Linked DNA regions of Homo sapiens. The protein of the gene in region 6 purifies or fractionates together with the protein of the main gene of each other region. This does not show direct contact. Each region holds a gene or a part of one and is shown on either strand. Other genes may lie near its edges.

Evidence for each region.
Region 1: the proteins of HNRNPR (region 6) and LARP7 purify together in Homo sapiens (affinity purification with mass spectrometry; 4 studies listed by BioGRID and IntAct, with this or other methods). This does not show direct contact.
Region 2: the proteins of HNRNPR (region 6) and SNRNP70 purify together in Homo sapiens (affinity purification with mass spectrometry; 3 studies listed by BioGRID and IntAct, with this or other methods). This does not show direct contact.
Region 3: the proteins of HNRNPR (region 6) and DHX9 fractionate together in Homo sapiens (co-fractionation; 3 studies listed by BioGRID and IntAct, with this or other methods). This does not show direct contact.
Region 4: the proteins of HNRNPR (region 6) and PABPC1 fractionate together in Homo sapiens (co-fractionation; 3 studies listed by BioGRID). This does not show direct contact.
Region 5: the proteins of HNRNPR (region 6) and NCBP1 purify together in Homo sapiens (co-immunoprecipitation; 2 studies listed by BioGRID and IntAct, with this or other methods). This does not show direct contact.
Region 7: the proteins of HNRNPR (region 6) and SF3A1 fractionate together in Homo sapiens (co-fractionation; 2 studies listed by BioGRID). This does not show direct contact.

What each region holds. Positions count from the first base shown.
Region 1 is NC_000004.12:112,650,643-112,654,142, reverse strand, and holds part of LARP7 (la-related protein 7), read right to left. Parts: intron 1,067-3,500; coding exon 907-1,066; intron 76-906; coding exon 1-75. UniProt on the Homo sapiens protein: RNA-binding protein that specifically binds distinct small nuclear RNA (snRNAs) and regulates their processing and function.
Region 2 is NC_000019.10:49,084,045-49,088,250, reverse strand, and holds the start of SNRNP70 (U1 small nuclear ribonucleoprotein 70 kDa), read right to left. Parts: upstream 2,801-4,206; 5' UTR 2,615-2,800; intron 1,847-2,614; 5' UTR 1,837-1,846; coding exon 1,690-1,836; intron 1-1,689. UniProt on the Homo sapiens protein: Component of the spliceosomal U1 snRNP, which is essential for recognition of the pre-mRNA 5' splice-site and the subsequent assembly of the spliceosome. SNRNP70 binds to the loop I region of U1-snRNA.
Region 3 is NC_000001.11:182,859,847-182,863,346, reverse strand, and holds part of DHX9 (ATP-dependent RNA helicase A), read right to left. Parts: intron 3,355-3,500; coding exon 3,163-3,354; intron 1-3,162. UniProt on the Homo sapiens protein: Multifunctional ATP-dependent nucleic acid helicase that unwinds DNA and RNA in a 3' to 5' direction and that plays important roles in many processes, such as DNA replication, transcriptional activation, post-transcriptional RNA regulation, mRNA translation and RNA-mediated gene silencing.
Region 4 is NC_000008.11:100,708,589-100,712,088, forward strand, and holds part of PABPC1 (polyadenylate-binding protein 1), read right to left. Parts: intron 1,144-3,500; coding exon 871-1,143; intron 636-870; coding exon 545-635; intron 1-544. UniProt on the Homo sapiens protein: Binds the poly(A) tail of mRNA, including that of its own transcript, and regulates processes of mRNA metabolism such as pre-mRNA splicing and mRNA stability.
Region 5 is NC_000009.12:97,657,821-97,661,320, forward strand, and holds part of NCBP1 (nuclear cap-binding protein subunit 1), read left to right. Parts: intron 1-819; coding exon 820-923; intron 924-3,125; coding exon 3,126-3,248; intron 3,249-3,500. UniProt on the Homo sapiens protein: Component of the cap-binding complex (CBC), which binds cotranscriptionally to the 5'-cap of pre-mRNAs and is involved in various processes such as pre-mRNA splicing, translation regulation, nonsense-mediated mRNA decay, RNA-mediated gene silencing (RNAi) by microRNAs (miRNAs) and mRNA export.
Region 6 is NC_000001.11:23,309,785-23,313,284, forward strand, and holds part of HNRNPR (heterogeneous nuclear ribonucleoprotein R), read right to left. Parts: intron 1,539-3,500; coding exon 1,417-1,538; intron 1,283-1,416; coding exon 670-1,282; 3' UTR 1-669. UniProt on the Homo sapiens protein: Component of ribonucleosomes, which are complexes of at least 20 other different heterogeneous nuclear ribonucleoproteins (hnRNP). hnRNP play an important role in processing of precursor mRNA in the nucleus.
Region 7 is NC_000022.11:30,339,895-30,343,394, forward strand, and holds part of SF3A1 (splicing factor 3A subunit 1), read right to left. Parts: intron 2,986-3,500; coding exon 2,911-2,985; intron 2,457-2,910; coding exon 2,306-2,456; intron 1,992-2,305; coding exon 1,798-1,991; intron 919-1,797; coding exon 801-918; intron 488-800; coding exon 302-487; intron 1-301. UniProt on the Homo sapiens protein: Component of the 17S U2 SnRNP complex of the spliceosome, a large ribonucleoprotein complex that removes introns from transcribed pre-mRNAs.

The DNA.
Region 1 (3,500 bases), on a different chromosome or scaffold from region 6:
TCTTTTCCCGAGGCTGATTAAGTTTTGCCTGTCTATCAACCAAAATCTTCTGCCAATACCTTTGTTCGTGATCACCTTAAAAACAAACAAAGACTCTGATGGATGAAAAGAAGAACATATCTGAAAAACCATATTCAAGGCATTACATTCTCAATAATAGTAACTAGGACAGTTTTTGATTATATTTAATGCTACTTTACACATATTACAGAATAGAAAAAAAATAGTTAGTTTTGCCAGGTGCGGTGGCTCAAACCTCTAATCCCAGCACTTTGGGAGGGCGAGGAGGGAGGATCACCAGAGGTCAGCCTGGCCAACAAGGCAAAGCCCCTTCTCTACTAAAAATATAAAAATTGCCTGGTGCAGTGGCTCATGTCTGTAATCCCAGCACTTTGGGGGGCCAAGGCAGGCAGATCACCTGAGGTCCGGGGTTCGAGACAAGACCAGCCTGACCAACATGGAGAAACCCCGTCTCTATTAAAAATGCAAAATAGCGGGGCATGGTGGCACATGCCTGTAATCCCAGCTAACCTGGGAGGCTGAGGCAGGAGAATCACTTCAACCCGGGAGGCAGAGGTTGCAGTGAGCCGAGATCGCACCACAGCACTCCAGCCTGGGCAACAAGAGCGAAACTCTGTCTCAAAAAATAAAATAAAAATATAAAAATTAGCCGGGCGTGGTAACACACGCCTGTAATCCCAGCTACTCTGGAGGCTGAGGCAGGAGAATTGCTTGAAACTGGGAGGTGGAGGATGCGGTGAGCTGAGATCACACCACTGTACTCCAGCCTGAGCGACAGAGCAAGACCAAAAAAAAAAAACTAGTTTCATTAGCCAAACTCAGAAAATATATTACTCACAATAAGGATGATAACAAAAAAAAAAGGAAACGTCTATGAAGTTTTACCAGAAAGGATCTCGAGTTTCCAGCAGTGTTTCTTGTTAATTTCTGTATAGGCATTTATTACTGCTTGAGCATCCTCAGGAGTTTTAAATCTAGCATGGCATTCTGTATCCCCTTCTAGCAAATCAACATAAAGAACTTCTGAGATTGCTGCCAAAGTATCCTGCATTAGAGTTAAGTAGAAAGACAAATAAAATTTAAAAAGTTTCACAATAATTCTAAAACTATTCCAATGGTTATGCCAGAATATATTATGTAAATAAAGCATTTTGCAGTCTAATGAGGAGCAAATATCCTGTATCAAATATTTCCTGTAAAGCATGTTCTTAAAAATAGATTTGAATAATATCAACTCTAGTAATTTATTTTCATTTATTTTCTTGAAATCACATCCTTAAAATCTGCACTAGAATGGGAATATTCTATAAGGACAACAGATTTATAGAGCAGAAAGCAGAAATAGTGTCCCCCAACCCCCAAATCAGGAAGCGTTCACATCTGGGAGTAGTATAAGGAATAAAATTAAAAAAAAAAAAAAGGATTAAGGGAGGTTTGTTTTTACTCACCTGTAGAAAATCACTATGACTTTAAAATATGTGTACAAATCATTCCACTTTTAATAACAACTCATGAAAAACAGTTTAACCAAACCTAAAATACTAGATTTCCACATTGTTCAAGAGCTCTTACTTTCTGAAAAAAATACCTAAGTAACCTCTTCTAAACAAGTTGTGGTCACCCAGCAAGGAAAAGTTTTACCTACACTGCCTGCTGTGAGGGCAAATTAACCAGATTCCTGCATTCTTAATCAACTTTTTTTTTCACAGCAGGTTTTACAGAGTATACAATGCATTTATGCAGGAATGTTACACTAATTCCTAATTCATCAACTTCCATTCATAAAGCTAAAGAAGTAACTGGAGATTGCTAAATGGGGGGGGGGGGGAAATCTTATTTATCTTGCCTCCCTTTCGTTTTGACCTAAAATTTCAGACATAACTAATTTACATTACTTTCAGATGTTGAATTTTTAGATGTTTGAATTACGGAAAGAACTGAGCAATACCTGGAAGTATTATTTCATCATAGAATAAGAAAAGTTTATCAGTTAATAATAAAAAATATATAATAAAATCTGTGAGTTTCTAGAAGCCAGGGACTAGATCTTAACTCATCCCAACACTCAGCAACTATCACAAAACAGGCATTTAGTAACTGTTTGCCAAATTAAAAAAAAAAAAACTGCAGAGACTTACACTTGCTAGTCCTTCCCACTTCTTTACCTAGTTAATTAGTACCAAATTTAGATATAAAGCAAGTAAAAAACTCAGTATTGTTGAAATTTGAATGCATTCAGTAGTAGTAATGAGTTTTATAACTGACTTTTGAGCATATTCAATTACTACAACTCAAAAGATATATACTAAATATCCATTATAATGTCAGGCTAATCTCTTGATTTAAAACCCTTAGAATTTAAAACCCATAGAATGACAAATTAGCCTGGTAATCACATGGGCAAGTCACAGACAGTTGTAACCAACACAGCTCAGTTTTTGTTTCAGCAAAATGTAAGTAACTACTAACTGGATTAATGCAGGGATTGATTTTATGATTTTGATGATCATAAATGATGAATTTGTAATTGATAAAGTTACCCTTTAAATAACAGAAGTTATTTAATGAGTTGATTAGAAATAACTCTGAGCAATTTTTGTATTAAATGTTTTGCAATCTGATTAATCAGAGCAGTATTTACATCCCTCAATTTTCAGCTGTCTCCTGAAATGCAAGCTGGTAATAGCAATTTGGATTTGGCCAAATCCTTCACCAACATTGCAAAGAGGATCAAAATTTGTTTCTTAGTGACAGCTATAGGATTGTAGGACAGTATTTCAGATAAGGAGGGCTTACAGATAAACAAACCACCACCTCAATGGTATTCAAGTTAAAACCTGTGACTGATGAGTCTACGTAAAACCAAAACAACATACTAAGTGATGATGAATGTCAGTATAAGAAAATACTTAAAATATGTGGTATGTTACAGAGCATTTCACACTTTTTAAAAAGAAAAGGATTCACTTAAATGGGTGACAGGCAGGGTAAGGGTAAATAAGATATGGTACTCTCACCTAAAAGTATATAATTTCCCTAATAGAAAGTATTGCTACCAATGTGGTATAAAAGGCTACAGAAGATAGACTGTATAAAGCGAAAAAATTATAAACCTGTATGTACAGCAATTTGTAGCGTAAATTATATAGAAGTATGGGTTTTTTGGCACATGCGTGAAAAATTTTAAGAGGTTTTCAAAAATATTTTACTTTTCTATAATTAAAATTTTAAAGATAATCAGCACATAGGTAATACAAAAAAAATCAGTGCCAATAAAAATAAGCAAAAGTTACAATTTTCCTATAGAGAAGGATGTTTAAACTGTGCTTACATATAGATTTAGTGAGGAATTTCAGCCTCTAGATTTTGCTTCAAAATTAAACCTAAGAGTTACCATGGAATTAAAACTGTACAGTAGTTTACCATAGGGAAACAAATTCTAACTTGATTTGTTTTATCTTCCATATTCAAAACATTTT
Region 2 (4,206 bases), on a different chromosome or scaffold from region 6:
AGCCTAGGCAACAGAGCGAGACTCCAAGTCAAAAAAAAAAAAAAAAAAAAAGTACCTGGCTCCCAGGCATGGTGGCTCACACCTGTAATCCCAGCACTCTGGGAGGCCAAGGGGGGTGGATCACCTGAGGTTAGGGGTTCGAAACCAGCCTGGCCTACATGGTGAAACCCCATCTCTACTAAAAATACAAAATTAGCCAGGCGTGGTGGTGCATGCCTGTAATCCCAGCTACTTGAGAGGCTGAGGCAGGAGAACTGCTTGAACCGGAGGCTGCAGTTGGCTAAAATCACGCCACTGCACTCCAGCCTGGGCAACAGAGCAAAACTGTCTCATAAATAAATAAATGGTAACTGGCACATGACCTGCATCATCAAAGGGCACCTACCACCCGCCTGTGCCCATTAAGTTAATTGGCCAGTAATATCTCTCAAGTGCGGGTTCACCAAGGGTGGCAAATCCCACTGAAGACATACCTTTCTGTTATCTACGAAATTCTGCTCTGCAACTCCCTCGCCTCCAGCTGCCCTTACCTACCCAATGCTAGAACGTTCTTCTTGTAACTTCCGACTGTGTGCCAGCTTTTCTCAGGTGTGCTCTGATGCACCTAAGAGATGACCCTTGTCATCCCATTTCACAAATAAAAACACAGAGGTCCAGGAGCCTAAGTCATTCATTCCTATTTATCCCAAAGGTGCAGAGCTAAGATCCCCATCTGCAGTTTTAAGCCCTCCAATACTCAATACTGGGTGCTAAGCCTTTATGAACATCATCTTATTAACAATAAAAGTAGTAAACAGAGTAACAAAGGCTGACATGTGCTGACTGCTTGGTGCCAAGCCCCCTGACATACAGTTTGCCATTTAATTCTCCACCAACATTATAAGGGTGCTACCACTATCCCCTTGCTAAAGATAAAGAAACCAATGCATTAAGAGGATACAACATTTGCCCAAAGTCAGAGCTGATAAATGGTGTGGGTTAGGCATGAATCCTCAACCACTACTCACTGAATTTTCACAAAAATTCTACAAAAGGTGTACTATCAACCCCACTTTTTTTTTTTTTTTTTTTTTGAGACAGTCTTGTTCTGTTGCTCAGGATGGAGTGCAGTGGCGCGATCTCGGCTCATTGCAACCTCCGCCTCCTGGGTTCAAGTGATTCCCGTGCCTCAGCCTCCCAAGTAGCTGGAATTACAGGCACCATGTCCGGCTAATTTTTGTTATTTTTAGCAGAGACGTGGTTTCACCATGTTGGCCAGGCTGGTCTTCAACTCCTCACCTCAAGTGATCCGCCTGCCTCGGTCTCCCAAAGTACTGGGATTACAGGCGTGAGCCACCGTACCGGGCCACAACCCCACTTAAAAAAAAAATTTTTTTTTTGAGAGACGAAGTCCTGCTCTGTCACCCAGGCCGGAGTATAGTGGCACAATCACAAAGCACTCCAGCCTCCGACTCCTGGGCTCAAGCAATCCTCCCACCTCAGCCTCCTGAGTAGCTGAGACTACAGACGCACTCGACCACACCCGACACCCGGCTCCAACCCCATTTAAAACAGAGAAACTGAGGATCACAAAGGTTAAGCCCCTCGCTTAAATCACGCAGCTGGCAAAATGGCCAGAAGCTGGACTCGCAAATCCAACCCGTTGCTCCCCAGAACCCAAACCATTCCTGGCCTGCTCAGTGAACTCACCTCAAACTCTCGAATGTACGGCGCAATGCCACAATAAGGTTGATTGTGGTGTTTTTCATGTGGCAGTTTCTCCAGGGGTGGCAGGTATGGAATAGGGTCACGGGGGGCAAAGAGGGCCAGAAGGTTGGGCGGCAGGAACTGGGTCATCTTGCCAAGTCTGAGAGCAGAAGCAGGACAGCCTTAGGTTAGATCGGGTCTGCACAGAGAAAGCCCCTGTTACTCCTTGACTCTCAAAATAAGAAAGACAGGAGAAAAGTCTCGGAATTAAAACAGGCTCTGTAAGGGCAGAGAACAGTCCTGTGTTGCGGAGAAAAGGGTACGTCTTGGTGGGGGTGGAGGTGAAAGGCCGGTAAAGAAAACAAAAATAACGGCTGGAAAAGGGTTCCTGAAGAGTGAAGTCTCAGAGTCCTCTGACACGAGCTGTGGGGCGGAGAGGTTCCCTGGGAATTTCTGGGGAAATCAAGGACCCGAGGAGGGAGGCCCAGAGCAGCTGTGGCTGCTCGTCCCGTGCCGTGGAGGGCAAATTACGAGATGCAGTTTGCAGGGTCCTGGGGATCGGAAGTTTCCAAGCAAAGAAAGAGAAACATAAGGAGCGAAGCCCCAAAACCAAGTGCTTGTGGGTAACAGACCTGGACCCCGCAAAAAGCGAAAGGAATTATGGGTAAGGGTCCAGGACAACATAGACAAACGAAAAAGAAAAAAGGCCACACACCGCAAGGGCCTGTGGGTAGGGAACCACGAGGGCGCTGTGGGAAGCGGGCGTGGGTGCCCAGAGATTTCGGGGTCCGGGAAAGGGATGCAGAAGGGACCTGTGGCGGGGACGCGGGAAAGGGGCCTGGCCGCGGGGAAGAGGACCGGGCCCACCGCTGGGGCTTCTGGGTAGCGGCCCCGCACCCCGTCGGGCCACTCAGTCACACTCACTCACCGCGTAGCGCCCTCCTCGCTCTGGCGTCTGTCCGGAGGCTCGCGGCGGCTGCGGCAGCCCCTCAGCAACAACAACTCCTGCTTCGGCTTCCACTCCGGGGGCGTCCACGTCCGTCTGATTCCGTCGCCCGCTAAGCGAGCGCACCAGGCCGCTGCTCAGCCACCCGCGCGGCCTCCGATAGCGACTGGAGCAGGGGGTGGGTCCCGGCCGCAAATCCCTCCGCCGTCCTCACTGCGCACGCGCCGTGCGGTGCCAACAACAACCCACACACTAGGACCCGGCGCTGCCGCGGGCACAGCGCACGCGCGAGGTCACTACCCCGCCTTTGGGCACCTTGAGTACCTCAGCCGCGGGGGGCTGGCTTCTGCACTGCGCGCGCGCGCTTGCCCCAAGCCGCCCCTCCACCTCCCGCTTTCCGCGCCGAACCGCCTATGTCCGCGAGACTCTCCCTGATGCTCCGCCCCTTTCCGATCACACTTCCCGGATCTTTCGCGCATGCGTTTTGCGTAGAGAACTGTAACGTACCTCTCCGCCGCCTAGCAAAGAGTCCCTAGGTGAACAGCCTGATTGCGTTGATGTCTAATCTATTCAATCAATAACTATTCATCGAGCATCTCGTGTGTGCTAGGCACTGTCTGGGCTTTGGGGGTACAGCACGTGATTAAAGCAAAGTCTTCTGCTGCTAGGGCTTACATTGTACTGGGAGAGACAATAAAAGCATTTAACTGAATAAAGATAATTTGAGGCCAGGCGCGGTGGATCACGCCTGTAATCCCAGAACTTTTGGGAGGCTGAGGCGGGCAGATCACCTGAGGTCAGGAGTGTGAGACCAACCTGACCAACATGGTGAAAGCCCGTCTCTACTAAAAATACAAAAATTAGCCGGGCGTGGCCGTGCGCGCCTGTAAGCCCGGTTACTCTGGAGGCTGAGGCGGGAGAATCGCTTGAACTCGGGAGGCGGAGGTTGCAGTGAGCCGAGGTCGTGCCATTGCACTCCAGCCTGGGCGACAGAGCGACTCCGTCTCAAAAGTAAATAAATAAATAAATAATAAAAGATAATTTGAGATAGTGGCCAGCATAATGAAGAACGATGGAGCAGAATAAAGGGATGGGAAGTGAGAGCGAGGCTGTTTTAGAAAGGGTGATAATGGAAGGCCCCTCTGAAGAGGTAACATTTGAATAAAGGACAGATAGAAGCGAGATCTGGGGTGGGGCCGGGGGGGCGGTGTTTAACAGTAAGTGCAAAGGTCCTGAACTGAGACCAGATGGCAGGAATCTCAGGTTGTTGGCCATGAGATCAGAGAGCTGGCACTTGTTATTTAGAGCCCTGTTCTTAAGTATTGTATCTTAAGTTTTGTGGATGGATTCAATAGCCTGTTTAATAACTACAGAAATTATTGCAAATTAAAATGACTAATTTTATGTTTCAAGAAAAAGGCCGAGTGCAGTGCTCACGCCTGTAATCCCAGCACTTTGGGAGGCCAAGGCGGGCAGATCACCTGAGGTCAATAGTTCGAGACCAGACTGATCAACATGGAGAAACCCCGTCTCTACTAAAAATACAAAATTAGCTGGGCATGGTGGCACATGCC
Region 3 (3,500 bases), about 160 Mb from region 6:
CTGCATTCTAGTAGATTAAAAACACAAGTTCAAAAAGGTTATTTTGCCTAAGGACACATAAATGACTTAAGACTTCAAATTTCCTTTACTCCCAATATAATCCTTTCTCCAATTATTTTACTTTTTATTATTTTAACTATGTTACACTTGGATTACTAAATATGTTAAAAATAAAACAATAACCGACAAAAGTGAGACTAGTTAGAAAGTACCAGTGATGAAAGCAAAGGATAATATTTTTCCAACAGAAAGCTGGAAGAATAGTTCCAACTGTCCTCCAGATATGTGCTTTTAATTTTCATTGCATACATCTGCTTATCTCATTTTCTCTTTAGAATTTTACTACTCTTGCCTGGAGTCCAGCCATAGTAGTAGGTAATTTCAAGTGCTAACCTCTTCCCCACACTTCTGTCTGCTTTAACTGAAGTAGCTCTAATAATATGTACTAAGCAGTCACTGAAATTACTATGTACCAGGTACTGGGTAACTAACACTTTCTATACCATAAGAGGTTGGAGATCTCTCCCAAACTGTTATTTTGTAGTATTCTAGAATCCATACCTTTAATGTACACCTCTTGCCATTTACTCAGAACTACAGCAATTTCTTCCATCTTTCAAAACTGAAGTTCTAAAAGGTCCCAACTTTGCTTTTTCACATCTAAGCGTTATATACACAGTAACATGACTAAGCTGCCACAAAATGTCAAGATTCCTAATGCACTAGATACTACAAAATGTATCAGGCTCCACTATCTCTATCTTCTAAGGTTCTGAATTTATTTTATACAAAGAACCGTTCTTATCCTGAAATGATGGTACTATGGGGTAAGTACAGGATTGATAAAATTACATTAATATGCTTGATTTACATCCTACAATTACAATTCATCTCTTTCAAATAACTTTAAAGGTAGAAGACAACTATTTCCTACTTAAAATTTTCTGCATACAGCCCACAGGTTTTAAGTGGCTTGAGTATGGATAGACCGAAGGATAAAATTCAGTGAGTTTGGTTGAGAATTTACACTAAGGCTGATGTCATGGTTTGAGCTACTCATTCTGTTATACGCCAGTCCATAACTCTAAACTTGTGCTCTGTGAACTGAGATAATACACTTAAAATCAGGAACATAAAAAAACTTTCTAATACTTAACTGATGACTTCATGTGGTTTCCTATAGATGGCTACAAGTGCAAGATAATGGAAAAATGATTCAACAGTGGTAGTACTACAAAAATAACTAATGCTATCTCAGACTGTGCCAAAAGAAGTACAGTATATTAAAAACAAAAATAATAAAAAACTGTATTCTGTAATAACCAATCAGCATGCTCAGGCCTACTTTTCATATTACAGGTAGGTGCTGATGAATTTGAGTGTGTTTAAATCTTAGACTTACTGTACCTTCATGGCTGAACTATAAATGTTTAGTTGAGACTTTCAAACTAAGTACATACTAGGACACAATATAGGTTTTTAAAATTTTGAAGACTTGTTACAGGTAAGAGGTATGAGACTGATTTTGGGACAAACGCTAGGACAAAAACATGCAAGCCACAGAATGTAGATGCAATATGAGTTATAAGTAATTCACCCCAAATCAGAAGACACAGGTTTGCTAATACATTTCCATGCCACTGAACATTTTAAAAGACAGTGAGACAAAGCACTTCTCACTTGGGCAGGAATTTTTACTCTATTTATGACATGCAGACAACTTGAGACTCCTGTCTTCACAGCTCGCTTGTTAAATTCTGCTTCTTTCTGCTATATGCCACAACTGCTTTTGAGATTAGAAATGGATAGTGGTAGAAGGGAGAGGAAGGGAAGAGAAGAGCAGAGCAGAGCTGAGCTCAAGGCTTCTCTTCTGTAAAATTGCACTCTTGAACAATGTTCTTCCTGAAAGATGAGGTAAGAATTAAGAGTAAGAATATTTTATTGGAGTATGATGACATCTGGGGCTGCAGCCTTCACTGTAAGTCAAAAAATCCATAGCCAGTTTTAGGGGTGAGTCGGAAAATCAAAGAAAATTTTGTGAACAAGCTAGGAATCCTTTCCCAGAAAAATGTCAATTTATCATATTTTTTCAAGCCTAAGGTATCATCAGCCTTAGGATGCAACATGATTCCTTCACAGCAATTTTTTTTTTCAGGAGAAAACCCAATTCTCACATAAAATATACAATTATACTAATTATACAATTATACAAATATACTAATTATAAAAATGTATCTCAATTTCAGAAATGTTAAAAAGTTTCAGATATATGCTTTATACATGCAAATGTAAATGAACATGCACACATTTCAAAGTTTGTAACTCTCCTCTGAAAACTGATTATGTTTCCCAGGTTAAGCAACATTAACCCATCGGGGAAAAAATAATTTCTAAGTCAAGATGTAAGCCTACCTCAGAGGTAGTACCTGGCTATTTGCAATGCTCTCCCACAAAGTGCCAGAAGTACAGGGTAGAGCCAACGGAACTGTTTAACCTGAGAGCACTTAGAAGAGCTAATCAGTTCTTCCCTAAGTACTGGGACAAACATGCAGGCGCTGCTCATTGCTGGTAAGGTAATACAGTGTTAGTTAAAAGGAAGAATCCTAAAAGGCGGATTGCTTGGTTTTTTAATCCTAGTTCTACCACTTTCTGTGTTAACCTTGGGCATTTTACCTTCTTTATGCCTTAATTTACTGAAAGAGAAATACTATGTGAAATAGTACTTACATCTTAGGGTCATTATGAACTTCGATTGAGTTTTTTCTAAAAAGCTACTGCTTAGAATAGAACATGGCATACAGTGAAAGTTAACCATTACCTGTCTGACTGGTTTTTACTCAATATCAAGGTGGTTAGATAGAGATGACCAAGATTTGGATGAACTTTAGGACAAAGAATTCTTAATCTCGACAGTCTGATTCTAGGCCCAGAGACTCTTTAGCCCAGATAAAAAGAATCCCTCACATAGTCCAGTTTAGCTTATTAGTGTAGCATACTAGAGATTAGAAAAAGACTACGTTGTTTTTATGTTTTCTTTTTTTAAATTTAATTTCAAGGGCACAATGCTCTCTCAATCTTAAATAATTACAAAAATTAGTTAATCAAAGAAAGAATCAGAAATAGTCTGCTCTCTAGGTATTTCATGGTTGGTTTACCACTTACCTGAGTTACTACGATGTTACACTCTGCTGCTCGGTCATTCTGGATAAAGTCATCTAGAATGAACTGGGGAACCTGTGTGGTTTTCCCACATCCAGTAGCCCCTCTAATAATGACAACTGAATTTTGGCTGATTGCTTCCAGAATCTCACTTTCAAATTTCTTCACAGGCAGTAACTCTCTCTCCTGCAAGATCTGCATTAGAAAAGTCACACTTCAGTCAAATGTCTACCAACACATTAGAAGCAACTGTCTTGATCCTTTAAAAAACTTCCATCTCTATAGACTGGGCGCGGTGGCTCACGCCTGTAATCCCAGCACTTTGGGAGGCTGAGGATCAT
Region 4 (3,500 bases), on a different chromosome or scaffold from region 6:
AAATTGGCTGGGTGCCATGGCTCACGCCTGTACTCTCAACACTTTAGGAGGCTGAGGTGGGCAGATGACCTGAGATCAGGAGCTCAAGACAACCCTGGCCAACGTGGTCAAACCCCATCTCTACTAATAATGCGTAAGTTAGCTGGGCGTGGTGGCGGGCACCTGTAATCCCAGCTACTCCAGAGGCTGAGGCAGGGAGAAATCGCTTGAACCTGGGAGGTGGAGGTTGCAGTGAGCCGAAACTGAGCCACTGCACTCGAGCCTGGGGCAACAGAGCGAGACTCTGTCTCGAAAATAAATAAATAAATAAATAAATAAAAAATGAAGAGCTGTACCTATTCCCAAAACTTTTATAAAGGGAAATCAAACCACTGTAGACATTACTATCTTAGCACTGCTTTTAAATGCTATAAAAATGAACATCCATAACCACAAATTATGTGAAATGCAATAGTTAACCTAACATTGACATAGAAGAGCTGATTTACCCAATGTGTTATTTTTAACTCAATCCCCAACCTTAATTAAAAGAAAAAAGACTTACGATGAGGTCTGGCACCCTGAGCAGTCCAGCGAGGACTTGGTCTTAGTTGAGCAATTTGGCTAGGAGGATAGTATGCAGCACGGTTCTGAGTCTGCAGGGAAAAAAAGCACATGAGTTTATCAGTTGAAGAAAAAAGCAAATAATGCAATAAATTATATGTACTTTTTCAAAACATTTACCAGGACTTCACACTCAAGCATTTTTTCCTACTCAATCATAATTCCCCTTTCTTAATGTTTCACATTTGCGGGGCGAGGGGCACAAAAAACACTAGAAATGACCAAATACGAAAACCTTCATGGTTCTGGTTGCCTTCTAAAACCTACCTGTGGGATAGCTGCCATGAAGTAACCTGAAGGAGGTGCTGGCTGGTAGGGGTTGATTACAGGGTTGGGAACAGCTCGTACACTTGCCATTCTCTGCATATACTGGTTAGTGAGGTGAGCCTGGCGCTCTTCTTTGCGCTGAGCTAAAGCTACATACAATGGCTTTGTGGCCACAATTCTACCGTTCATTTCTGTAACTGCTTTAGTGGCTTCTTCTGGGGAGGAGAAACATACAAAACCAAACCCTTTGCTGCGACCACCCTCCATCATAACCTATTAAAAAAAAGAAAAAAAAAGTTAACGTAATGGTAGAATGAGGAGCAAAAAAAGAGCGTTACAATTTAGACAATTATAAATCACTGAATCAAATAACTAAACCCTGTTAATGCTTAATCATCTTGTATTTACCCATTGAGTTCACAATTTTTCCTTAATACCCAATTATTAAGGGCAAACTACACATATGCATTACCCTAGCCAGGTCAGAGAACTGACAGAAGTGAAGGCTGCACAGAAACTTTTAAAGATTTTAGATACTGAATTTGATTGGATTTTCAATATTGAAATTTAATTATCTAAATAAATACATCCCAGGCCTACTAAATTGACTTTTGGGCACCACTGGAAGCATTTCCCAATTAAATTTTGACTATTCTAACAATTCAAGCTGACAAGATGCTTCACTATGCCTTTGAGAAAAAAGTAGTTGAATCTTACAATACCCACATCTTAAAATAAAAGTTTTTACATTCAAGAGCAGAGGATCCATAAATATTACGGTATAAAGAACACTCAAGAGGAAGGTTCTTCTAAAATTGATTGCAAAGACCTTTTAAATGAGCAATGAAGACTTGCAAAGAACCACTCGCTAGGCCAGCAATATATATAAGCATGCTATAAAACTACATTAACAGTATGCGAGTGGCATAGGAACAAACGGTAATAAAACAGAGGCCAGAAATATACCCAAGCAATTATGGGAATTCACTGTGCTAAAGTTAACATTTTAAAGTACTGGGGAAAAAGGACTTTGGGCTACTCAATACATGACACACTGGGACAAATGAAAAAATGTAGAACTCTTAATTCACATTACATTGAAAAATCTTAAATGCCAGGTAGATTCTGAATCTGAACATAGAATGTAGAAATAGAGAGAAAACCTTTCTAAGATGACACACACACAAAGTGAGGTCTATAAAGTGGAAAATTCGAAGAAAATATTTCCAATATAAAACAAATGTTTGGCCGGGCGCGGTGGCTCACGCCTGTAATCCTAGCACTTTGGGAGGCCAAGGCGGGTGGATCACCTGAAGTCAGGAGTTCGAGACCAGCCTGGCCAACGTGGCGAAACCCCGTCTTTACTAAAAATACAAAAATTAGCCGGGCATGGTGGCAGGTGCATATAATCCCAGCTACTCGGGAAGCTGAGACAGGAAAACTGCTTGAACCCAGGGGGTGGAAGTTGCAGTGAACTGAGATCACACCACTTCACTCCATCTCAAAAAAATAAAACAAATGTTCCCTTAATCAATAAAAAGACAGACAACCAGCCAGGCACGGTGGCTCACGCCTGTAATCCCAACACTTTAGGAGGTCACCTGAGGTCAGGAGTTGGAAGACCAGCTTGGCCAACATGGTGAAACCCCATCTCTACTAAAAATACCAAAAATTAGCTGGGCGTAGTGGCACATGCCTGTAATCCCAGCTACCCAGGAGGCTGAGGCAGGAGAATCGCTTGAACCCGGGAGGCGGAGGCTGCAGTGAGCTGAGATTGCACCACCGCACTCCAGCCCAGGCGAGAGTGAGACTCGTCTTTAAAAAAGACAAAAAAAAAACACCTCATAAGTTTAAGAATTTGTGTTGCACTGCATTAAAAGCATTCTTGGGCCGCATGTGGCCTGCAAGCAGCGGGTTGGACAAGCTTGGCTTAAGCCCAGGAAAGGCTGAGGCTGCAGTGAGCTGTGATTGTGGCATGCCCCTGCACTCCAACCTGGGCAACATAATGAGATCCTGTCTCAAGAAACAGAAAAACATGCATGCTTCATACATTCAAAATATGCTGATGCACAACACTCAATTTAAACAATATCCAGGGAACACACTGAAGACAAAAACATTCAGGAATAAATTCTATCGTACTCCAATACTCTTACATAAAAAGCATAATCTGAAACACAAGACAACCATGGCACTTCCATCTTACTTGTATTCAACCACCTTTCCCCTAACATTTCCTCACTCTCACAGAAGCTTCCTCGGACTTGCCAGGAAAAGCTGACTAGAAAGATCAGCCACAGCGTCATTCCAGTTCAGTTGAGTTGTAATTTTTTTCTATGCACTCTTCCCCAACCCCAGCAAAATTATGTATGCACAAAACCTTGCATATAGGGGGACTCTTGGCCCACGGATGCTAGACAAAAACATCTAGAAGAGAACTTCTTAAATCAAGATTTCAGAATTTGTACTAGAATACTACTGCTTTGTTTCTTAATCTCTGATTTCAAATAAAAGAAAATATGATCTCTATTCTTACTGCTAGGGGGCAGGGGAGGGAACTGGGGCTTGACTACCCAGAATGAATTGTAGAAATGAATAAACAGATCAGAACTATAGTAACAATTATAAGT
Region 5 (3,500 bases), on a different chromosome or scaffold from region 6:
CTATGAGGATTATTTATTTTGATGCCCAAATTGTCCCTGGTATGTACATGAGGAGCCCCGGTAAGCTCTCTCTCTCTCTCTCTCTCTATATATATATATATATATATTTTTTTTTTTTTTTTTAACGTCCCCAGCCATTCATTGAGCATTCCCTTATTTTCTAGAACAACATATTTAGGATCATCTTGCGTTTTCTTGCCCTATCACTGGAATCATCTATTTATTCATGGAGCCCTAGTTTCTAGTAAAGTAGTAATGGAATATGGTATTTAGGAGCCAAGATCTGGGCACTTGATATGCTCATTGCCATTGGGGTGTCATTGGTTCTAAGCCTCTTGGTGGACACACATCCATCCATCCATAACTGTTTTTATGTCCACCTGTGTGTATATATGCCTCCAATTCCAACTCAATACCTTATTTCTACACTTCTTCTCTACCATGATTTGTAAACACCTTCTCAGGCAGTAACAAACTTGGCTTCCATTATCCTCAATATTTATTTATTTGATAGAATATAGCCAGTTTCCAAAGCGTGCAGTCATCTCCACCATGCCCCATCATCACCCCACATACTTGGCCACCAGGCTCATGAGCTCACTCACCCGCACCTCAGTGCAAGCCAGTGAGTTTTGCAGTATGCCTGAGATTTGGTGTGCTGGCTTAGACAAAAACTCAAAGGATTTTTTTTTCCCTTTCACTTCTTGGTTGTCAGCTGAGTTCAAGTTGTTGGAGATCATGACTTTCCAGGTAAGTCGGGTGTTACCGAAGAATGGGACTGATAAAAGATATTTTCTGAGGCTGTTATTTGTATTGTAGGTTGTCTTACCATCAGCGTATATTAGATATTGTTCCTCCTACCTTCTCAGCTCTGTGTCCTGCAAACCCAACCTGCATTTACAAGTATGGAGATGAAAGTAGCAGTAAGTAATGAAACTAATCCCTCTGTCTTTAAAAGGTACCAGTTCAAGTATATCTGAAGTTAGTTGTTTAAAGTGGAGAAATTGAACTTTTTCTTTTCTTGGGGTTTATATTTCCTGTATTTGAAAGGTGGTCTATCATTAGCCACTGTTTTATTTGCCCTGTCATCATTTTGAGGATTTGGTTGTGATAAAATTAATTACTACTGGCTTATCATTTTTTCTCTTTTGAATGTGTTAAGTATAGCAAGATGAATTTATAGTTAGAACTTACTAAACTGAAAACGTGTATTTGTCATGGTGATGGAGGTTACTTGAATTCATTATCTTGTTCAGGTGTGGTATTGAGAACATAGATGCACATATTTGTGGCAGTATGCCTTTAAAAGTAAATTCTTAATTATGATTTTCTTACCTTTTGGTCACATAATCTCTGAAATTGCACCATAAATCAGGGAGTGTAATTTGATGTGCCATTTTGCCCTTTGCATAGTATTTACACTTAATGAAGGTAAAGTATTATACATTGTTGATCACTGGTAGAGTTAGGTGTGGAGTTTTTCCAACTTGTTCTTTGCAGATTACACTTAACACAGCCCCTCCATGATCCTTCCATTTTGTGTTGTGTAGAGGTTCTTTGTATCTCACAACTTTCTGCTGTTCTTTGCTTTTCATACTGTGTGCCTGTTTCTCCACCTCTGTCTCTGACTGTACCTGTTTTCCTTGAAATGAACTGTGTCGGTCCTGGTACATTTCCTATTTCATTATGTCAACTCTGAAGAATAGATATGATTATCAAAACTACAATGAGGAAATGACTTCCAAGAGGTCAAGCTAGAATGAGATTGCTTTTGAGTGGTGGAGCCCAAATTCAGGCGTAGGTGCACTAACTGAGTGGCCATGCTGTTAGCCACTGTGCTTTTTGGCAGATCAAAGGTTTATGCAGTACTTAGAAGTGCTGGGTTTTGAGTTTTGTCCTGTACTGGTTCCGAGAATGATAAGGTGTAGTCTTTGCTATCAGAAAGCTCAGGCTTTTGTTGAAGATTAAGCTTTCTTTTTGCCCCATAGGAATAACTCCGCCTAACATTCAAGGCCTTCATAACCATTGTTCCTACTTTGTTATTTTTCACTTCTCCCCACATGGACCTCTATTTCTGCCAGGTCCATGTACTTTTTTATTTTTTCCATACTCCCTGTTCTTGACTTTGCCATTACCCCAGTCTGGAAAGCCCTTTCTAGCTCCACTTCCTTTTCTCCTTCTAGATTCTAGCCCAAGCTCAATAGCTGTAAATATTTTTTAACCGTTAGCAAGCCAGTTTTGTATTGCTTCCTGGCTGTGTCTAATGTGAATATCTTGGTTCCCCAGCTAGAATGTAGACTGGTGACAGGGGATTCTGTTTTTCTTCGCCTTCTTTTTTTTAGAGAAAAAGCTCACAGCAGGTGTAATATGACTGTCCTCACATGACTGTTGTAATTTACTTTATTCATTCCAGTAACTCATACTCTATAACAGGATTGCCTTTTTTGTTACCTCTTTGTCTACCTTACATTAAAAGCAGATTTCTTGTTGCTCTGGTGATGCCTTACGGTGTATATTAGCACAAATTTTTATAATAAGGACTCAACTGATACCAACCAATAGTAAATACAAGGAGTCCCATCACGTGAGCATCTGACTTACGTAGATTCAAGCTTGTGGACTCAGCAAAAAAGAAAAGTACAAAAACAAAACCTCTCTGAAGTTGGCAGCCATTACCTTGTTGAGACTCAGACTTCATTTCCACGGTCCCGAGGAAAGAAAGAGGAAGTGGGTGTTGGCAAAATGAAAGAGAAGTACGTTGGTTCTGGGATTTTGAGCCCAGGAGAGTTGAGGGCATTAAAAGACAGTTTAACTGTGTCCACTTTTCTCCTTACCATTCATCTTGAGGATGATCAGCACCTTGTGCTCTAAATTTTACTTAGCTAAGTGTCCTTAATGAATTGTTGAAATGAGAATTGTCCCTTTTTAGGTGAAAAACCATTAACCTATTAGAAAAAGCTTTCACATACGGTATTTATATGTGATTAAATATTGACCTTGGGATAAAGAGCATCCTATTTTGAAAGGAAGAATTTAAAAAAAATTTTTCTCAGTTATTTAACTGTTCATTAGAATAGTCTTGAAACCTGATCTGTCATTCCCCTTACCCCCAATTCTGTGTTTAGATTCTCTTCCTGGACATTCTGTTGCCCTCTGTTTAGCTGTTGCCTTTAAAAGTAAGGCAACCAATGATGAAATCTTCAGCATTCTGAAAGATGTACCAAATCCTAACCAGGATGATGACGACGGTAAGTGGAATTCAGTATTTCTTAAGTGGAACTATGTATAGGCCAACTTAAAGCATAAACATAACTCTGGCAACATGATGCTCTTAAAGCAATATATCTATATCTGTTTGACCTGTTCAGACTGTTGTTCTTAGCACCCCAGGTATTTTCCCCTTATATAAAAAGAGATCCTAACATTTCTGTGATATAGCTTACTTAAGAATATAAACTTCATCGTAAATACAAAGTGAAATATGTTACCATTCAAGGATT
Region 6 (3,500 bases):
ATGTTTTGAATAGATTTTTTAGTTTTATTGAAATCTTACATGAACAAGAAATTGGAAATACAATCACATCAAAGAACAAATTGTCACGGCTTTTGACGTTTAAGCCAAACAAATTTTGTAGGGCAGATTTCAAAAAGGTGTGAAGTTATAACAATTTAAAAACACAGTTAACCTACTTCTAGGAATGCAAAACATACAATCATAGGTTATTTTCAATACAAGAAAACTTAAATTTGTTTGCTTTAATTTCTTAAAACTACTAAGACAAAGCACTAGCTTGTATTTTTATTTACAGCATACTCCATACTCCTATGTAATCTATCCCAAATCCAAAAAAATGAAACTGTCCAAAACCAAAGGTTCTGCAAAATCATGATTTAACAGTGTGCCCAGCTTGTTTTGAAGCTAAAATGAAGCCTGAAACGATAAAAGCATTGTAATCCCCAGAATAAGGGAACTCTGCAAGCCCAATAATGTCCAAGAGCATTTATGAAAAGAGGAAAAATAAAAAGACTTGAGTATATACACAATAGTGATTTCTTCAGCCCAATACAAATGGCAGCAAAATGCTACTTAAAGATGAAACAGTTAAGCCAATTTTTTTTTTTGAAGAATGTAGATCTAGAGCCAATCGTATCTTGCCAGTATCATTTTCAAGCCCTTACTTGTCTACTTCCACTGTTGCCCATAAGTATCCTGATAAAATTCCTGGTTGTCATTATTGTAACCATAGTTACCAGAATAGTCACCACCTTGCTGAAGCGGCTGCTGAGCGATGGGTTGGGAACCCCAGTTCTGTTGGTTGTTGGTCTGACGACGCTTGGAATCAGGCTGGTTGTACCCATCTGCCTTTCTCTTGCCTCCTACATTGCCCCCACGATTGCCCCGAGATCCACGGGAACCACGGCCTCTCTGCTGTTGAGCAGGACCCCCTCTGCCACCCCTAGAGCCTCTTGGTGGTCCCAAAGGTGCCCCCCTCTGTGAATAGCCAGCTCTACCTCTTGGAGGTGGTGCTCCCCTCCCCCTTGGTGGTGGTGGAGCACCTCGCCCTCCCCTTCCTCCTCCTCTTCCTCTTACTGCATAGCCATCATCATAGCCGTAGTAGGGATCTTCATAGCCTCCACGATAGTCGTGATAATCATAACCATAGTAATCATCATAGTAATCTTCATAGCCGTAGTAATCTGGAGGGTAGCCATATCCACCTCTCCCCCCACCACGACCCCGACCTCTAATTGGAGGTGGCATGCGAGGAGGAGGGTGGTAGTAATAATCTTCATACCTAGCAAAGTAGAGAAGGGAGAAAAGAAAAAACAAATCAGTTTGCTTCAAGACTCTGATTTTGTTTTATTAATCTGATCTCCATTATCACGTTATTCCTTGTCCAAAGATATATCTACTAAAATGTAGACTCACGCAGTGCTTCTGGAGGCCTGTCTAGCAGCTTGGCGCTCTTTCCTTTTCTTGTCTGGTGGCTTGGCTAAGACTATTTCAATTTCTTCCCCTTCTATTTCTTTGCCATTCATTTCATCCATAGCCTATAAAAAATTAGAAAAATTATTTTACAACGATATAAAACTGTATTTTGTTTTATATAGTATGTAAGCTATTATACTTGTGTAATTTAATACACTTAACAATTTACTTCACAATTATTTTAAATGGCAAAAGGTGAATCTAGCCAGAAAGTTAAACACAAACACACAAAGAAAATACGTTTCCCTTGACCTTATCTTTTTATACATAAATTACATTTAGAACAAAACCGACCACCTGATATTATATTTTAAAAGGTAAAAGGGCTGCCACCTATTGCTGCTCCTTAATTCCAAATAACTCCTTAAAAGATAAGCCATACCAAAGAAGCAAATCCATACCGGGGAAAAATGCCAGTATTAATACGAGCCAGACAAAGATTAACTTCTCAGGATTAGAATTTTAAAATAAACATGTAGCATACAACATACAGGTCTTCCACTGTTCTTATACGACAATTTCAAGGATTTGAAGCACAAATGAGGTTACTGAGTGAGATTATCTGTAAAATTCAAGAAGATACTAACACAAAAAAGCCTAGGTTTCCCTCACAATGCTTAACCCAAAATGTACTTTGCTTGAACAGTTAAAAGTACAGAGCCAGAAAAGGCCTGGACTAATGAAGACTCAAGCAATTATGTAGAAAGCAGTAATCAAACATTCCATGTTCTAGCCCTTTGTTCACGTTGTTCCACCTAACAACCTCTGCCATACATCAAAAGGTTCAGGTACTCAGTAACAAAATGTCACCTCCTCATGATATTTTATTTTTTGTTTCCCTATACCTTTCCCCACTCTGGGCACACATAAAAAAATGTTCTATTGGAGCTATCAGTGATTTATAAGTATCTAGACAAAAACGAAACTAGTCCTCAAGACTGCAATTTTCCCTTTTACCACCTCAGCTTTGCGTTGCTTCAGTTAAAGCAACTAAACAAGTTTACAAAAGCTTCCTGGCATAAATTAAAAAATGAAACATCTACCCTCTGCCCTGACCATCCTGGTGACTCCCAGTTCCTGGACTAGATATTTTATAATTTCATAGGCTTCTTTGGCAAACCATCCTATAAATATTTTCAATCAGGACAACCAGTTATTTGAAACCAGTCGAGTCAGGAGGAATATTTAGACAGCATAAAATTATTAGTTATCTGCATTCTATACCAGTGAAATTTCAGAAGCCACAAATGAACGGATAAGAGTATAACAGCATAACAGATAAGACTCCATACTTCAAAGCCAGATTATTACTGAGTTTGTGATCTTGGACAAGTTATGAATTTTATGAACAATACTGCCTCATTAATTAGCTACCATCAATGAGCAAGCCAATTAATTATAAACCAATCAGGGATTCTATAAAGCCTGTTTTAAAAGCAGTAGCCTGGGCAAAAAACAAAACCAAAAAATGCTCAGATTAGAGATGGCAGTATCCCACCGACCAAACATGCAGAAAAAGAACCATGCCTGTGTCACTAAGCATTCTGGATCTATCTTCCTAATAACATAAATAAGATTTTAGTAGTGTTTTGTCTTGCTCCCACCCCCCCAAGGAAGGAGAGATGAATAAAAAAAAGAAACTGAAAATTTCACCCATTAAAGATAGTCCTAAACCATTGTCGATAGAAAGCAGGTTTTGTGTTCCAGATACCATATGAAAATACTTTCTTCAAACTTTTCATTATCATCAAAGACTAAATCAACTATTATACACAAGTGATATCTCTAACAATTACCGAAATCAGTAAAACATAGTGAATGCTATTTTAACTCTAAAATGATTAAATAAAGGTAAAACTAATCATACCCTCAAAATCTATCTACTCAATTAAACATGGTATACTGTATGAGTCATGTACACCACTCAGTTTCCTTCATAGGTACACAAACTGAGGTCAACTAAGTAGTTATAATGCATTCATTACCTATTCAGTGTTTACAGCAGCTAATTTTTATACCTTGTA
Region 7 (3,500 bases), on a different chromosome or scaffold from region 6:
GAGCTCATGGTACTCCAGCCATCAATGCTCTCCTTCTAAACAGCCACAGGAAGCCCTTCCAGCTAAAGCCAGAGCTTGCTCTGGGATGTCAACAGGCACATGGCATCTCCTTCAGTGTCTGCCTTTGGGGAATTTCTATGGGGAGTTCTTCTGGAAAGTGGGGAGTTCTCTTGCAATATCATAGAGTGCAACTCTCCTCAAAAGCTTTTGTTGACCTCAATTGTTGCTTTCTATGTTTGCTTAGAAGAAGATGGCTGTAATTCGGAGACTACCATGGGCTCTCCTGGAACCCCCACCTCACCTGGTGCGTACACCTCATCATCGCTCTGCTTCTCACGGATGGAGCGATCCCGCTGCTCCAGCCAGCGAGGGTCAAGAAGTCCAATGCGCATGTGTTCCTGCATTTTGCTGGCGGGGATCTTCTCCCCAGTAATGGGGGACACAAGATACTCATCTGGAGCAGGGGCTGGAGGCAAGGGCTTGGAGGCTAAAAGGAAACAGATGTTTCAGTAAGAACACTGGTGGGCAGCCACCTGAGTTAAGAGGGTGGTATTTCATGCGTGCATCATTCATCAAGGCATCTATTCAGTGCCACTCTTGTACCTGGCACTGTGAAAGGCACTAGGGCACCAGAGATGACTGGGCCCTGTTCCCACCATGAAACCTGTAACAGACGGGCTTGCAATGCTTTTACAATAAGCTGCACCTCAAGCCCTCCTAGAAAGACGGGTGTGAGGAACACATGAGGGCACACAGGACTTCCTGGGCAGCCCGAGGGTTGGGAAGCAGGCCCTCCCTACCTTTGGGATCATAATCCTTGCGGACAATGACTTGGTCTGGAGTTGGGGGCAGAGGTGGAGGCATGGGTGTCTCTGGGGGTGGGGGCACTTTCTGCCCTTCTTCTTCATCATCTGAACCCTGAAAAGCAAAGCAATGGCAGGACTCAGAGAGGGGCTGAGGCCACCTCCCTGTAGCTGAGCCTGGCAGGTCTCTGGGTGGCAAGGAGCCTTGGCCTCTGCCAGCCAGCGTCCATGTGCTAAGCCTCCCAGGGCAGCTGAGGCCAGCCGGCAGCAGGCCAAGCTGCTTCCTCACAGCATGAATGGGAGTGCTGAGGCCACGGTCCTAGCACTCCTCCCAGGCATTTCCAGCAGCTGGCACCAGGCAGTCCCAAGAGGCCAAGGGCACTTAACATGCCGGGGGGGGACAGTGCCAAGGGGGCGAGGGGTGGGGGCGGCGAGTCGCCAATCAATGGTAGCTGCTCACACAGCAATGCTGGGAGGGAGAGAAAAAGTCATTTCCCACAGACAGGGGCCCTTTCTTCTCAGGCTGTGCACAAATTATTTCCGAGTGGGGGAGAACAGTCTGGTTCTGGAGACTCCATGCCTGCTTAGAGGGCCTGGCTTGAAGGGGGTAGGGATGCCTGAAAGGAAGCGTGGGCTACATTTAGAAAAGCTCTGGGAGCTTGGAGCCCAGCTGAGAGCTCAAAACAGAACAGGGTAATGCAGTGAGTTCCCTGAGGGCTGGCACGAGGCAGTGAGAGCAGGCTGTCCGGGCCAGGGAGGCGGCCACAGAACAGGTCAGCACAGCTTTTAGATCCTTGCCTATGAATGAATCTTTGTTGCCGGAGCTGGAAAGAGGCTCTGTGCTGCCTGGACTTGGGCAGCTGTATGGCCTTGTTCAGGACCCACGCCTCCTTTCAAGGCTCACAGGGGAGCTGGATCTGACTGGTGGAGAGCACTTCGACCTCCTGGGGCTTCAGGGGAAAAGGTCATCCTGCAGGCCTGCCCAGCAGCTTACCTCATCCATATCTTGTACTTGGGTGTCCTGGTCCAGCTGGGAAGGAGGCTCCTCCGCCTTCTCCTGTTTGTCATCCTCCTCATCAGACTCGACCTCCATCTCAACTTCCTCACTCTCCCCAAACTTTTCATAGCGCTCCTGAATGAGGATTCGGGCCCCCAGCTCCTCTGGCGTGGTGGGGGGAGGGAAGTTCCCTAGAGGGTGAGCCAGAGGCAAAGGTATTCCTTATCAAAGACCCACCTATTTGCCCTGTCTGAGCTCCCCAAGGGCTGGGGCCATGTCTGTTTTCTCTCCAGCTATCTCCAGAGGCCCATCTAGGGTCTGGCAAGTACGTATTGAATCTAAGTTGGGCAAAGTGGTAGAACTGAAGTCTTTTGGGAGCAGGGAGGAGACAGCACTGATAAAGCCCTCTGAGAGATTCTACTGCTCTCTGGGAACACCTGCACCAGGTTTCCCGGGAAGTCTGAGTTCCTGGCTCCCCATCTGGAGTCACTCCTCACAGACCTACCTTGCTCATTGGGTTGGAAGTCCACTGTTTCCACCACCACAAAATCATGCCAGTCGATCTGAGCATAGGCCACCCGCTCCTTCTCCTTCTCCTCTTCTTCCTTCTTCCTCTCACGTTCCTGGAATTTGGCCCATTCCACTCGGTAACACACCTGCAGAGATGGGAAACAGCTTGGTGCTACGCTGAAGCAGGGTCTGCTCCTGATGAGGCTACCACCTCCAGGGCTTTCATCAAAGTCAGCGCCTCCTTCGGAACAGAATGGAAGTATGGTTCCAAACTATGGCATTTGCACCTGGTTCCACCCAGGTGCAGAGTTGGGACAGAATGAAAATTCCACCCTCTGATCTGCTTGGGAGCTGGCCTTCTGTCTTCTAGCTAGAGTGGAAAAGAGGGAGATATATTGAGGCTGAGAGCAAAGCAGAAAGTTGTGGTATGTTGGGAAGCATCCGGACTCCAGGTTTCTTTGGCCTTTGTAGCCAACAAAGCCTTTTCTCCCACCATTCCCATGACTGGAACATAACAAGGTCCTGCCTCAGAGACTGTTTTCAGACATAAAACAGAACCAACCACCAGTAACTGGTTGCAAGAAATGCTATTCAGTTTACCTGATCCAAAACTTCTCGGGGGTTTTCAGCCTCTTTCTTGAGCTTTGAAAATAAACCTTTGGGTGGAATCAAGATCTGAAATACAGAAGAGTTAAAGCAACTGTCAGTGCTTTACAACGCAGTACAAAGAGGCAGCCTTCCTGGGCCTGTGATAAAGCACAGGAGATGAGGAAGCATGGGATTCTGTGTCCCAATCCCAGCTCCACTTGGCTGTGGGACTTAGGGCAAGTTACTTAACCTCAGTAACTTGATTTCCTTCTCCAAAATAATGGCACCACCACTCAAAGTTGGCACCATGAACTTAAAAAGGTGGCTTCGAGGATTAGCAGGAAAGCATGCAAAGCACTAGCCGATTACCCAGAACACGGTCAGTATGAGACGGCTGCTTTCATGACACTGACCTGCTCTCATCCTTTCAAAAACACTACGCAGGTCCCCCCTGACTATCCTATTCAGAACCGCAGCGTACTTGCCCCACCTCCCTCTATTTCTGCTCCCTGCTTTCTCTCTGTAGTATTTAGCACCATGTAACAGACACTGACAATGCACTTGACTCCTCCTCACTAGACTAGAAACTCCATGAAGACAGG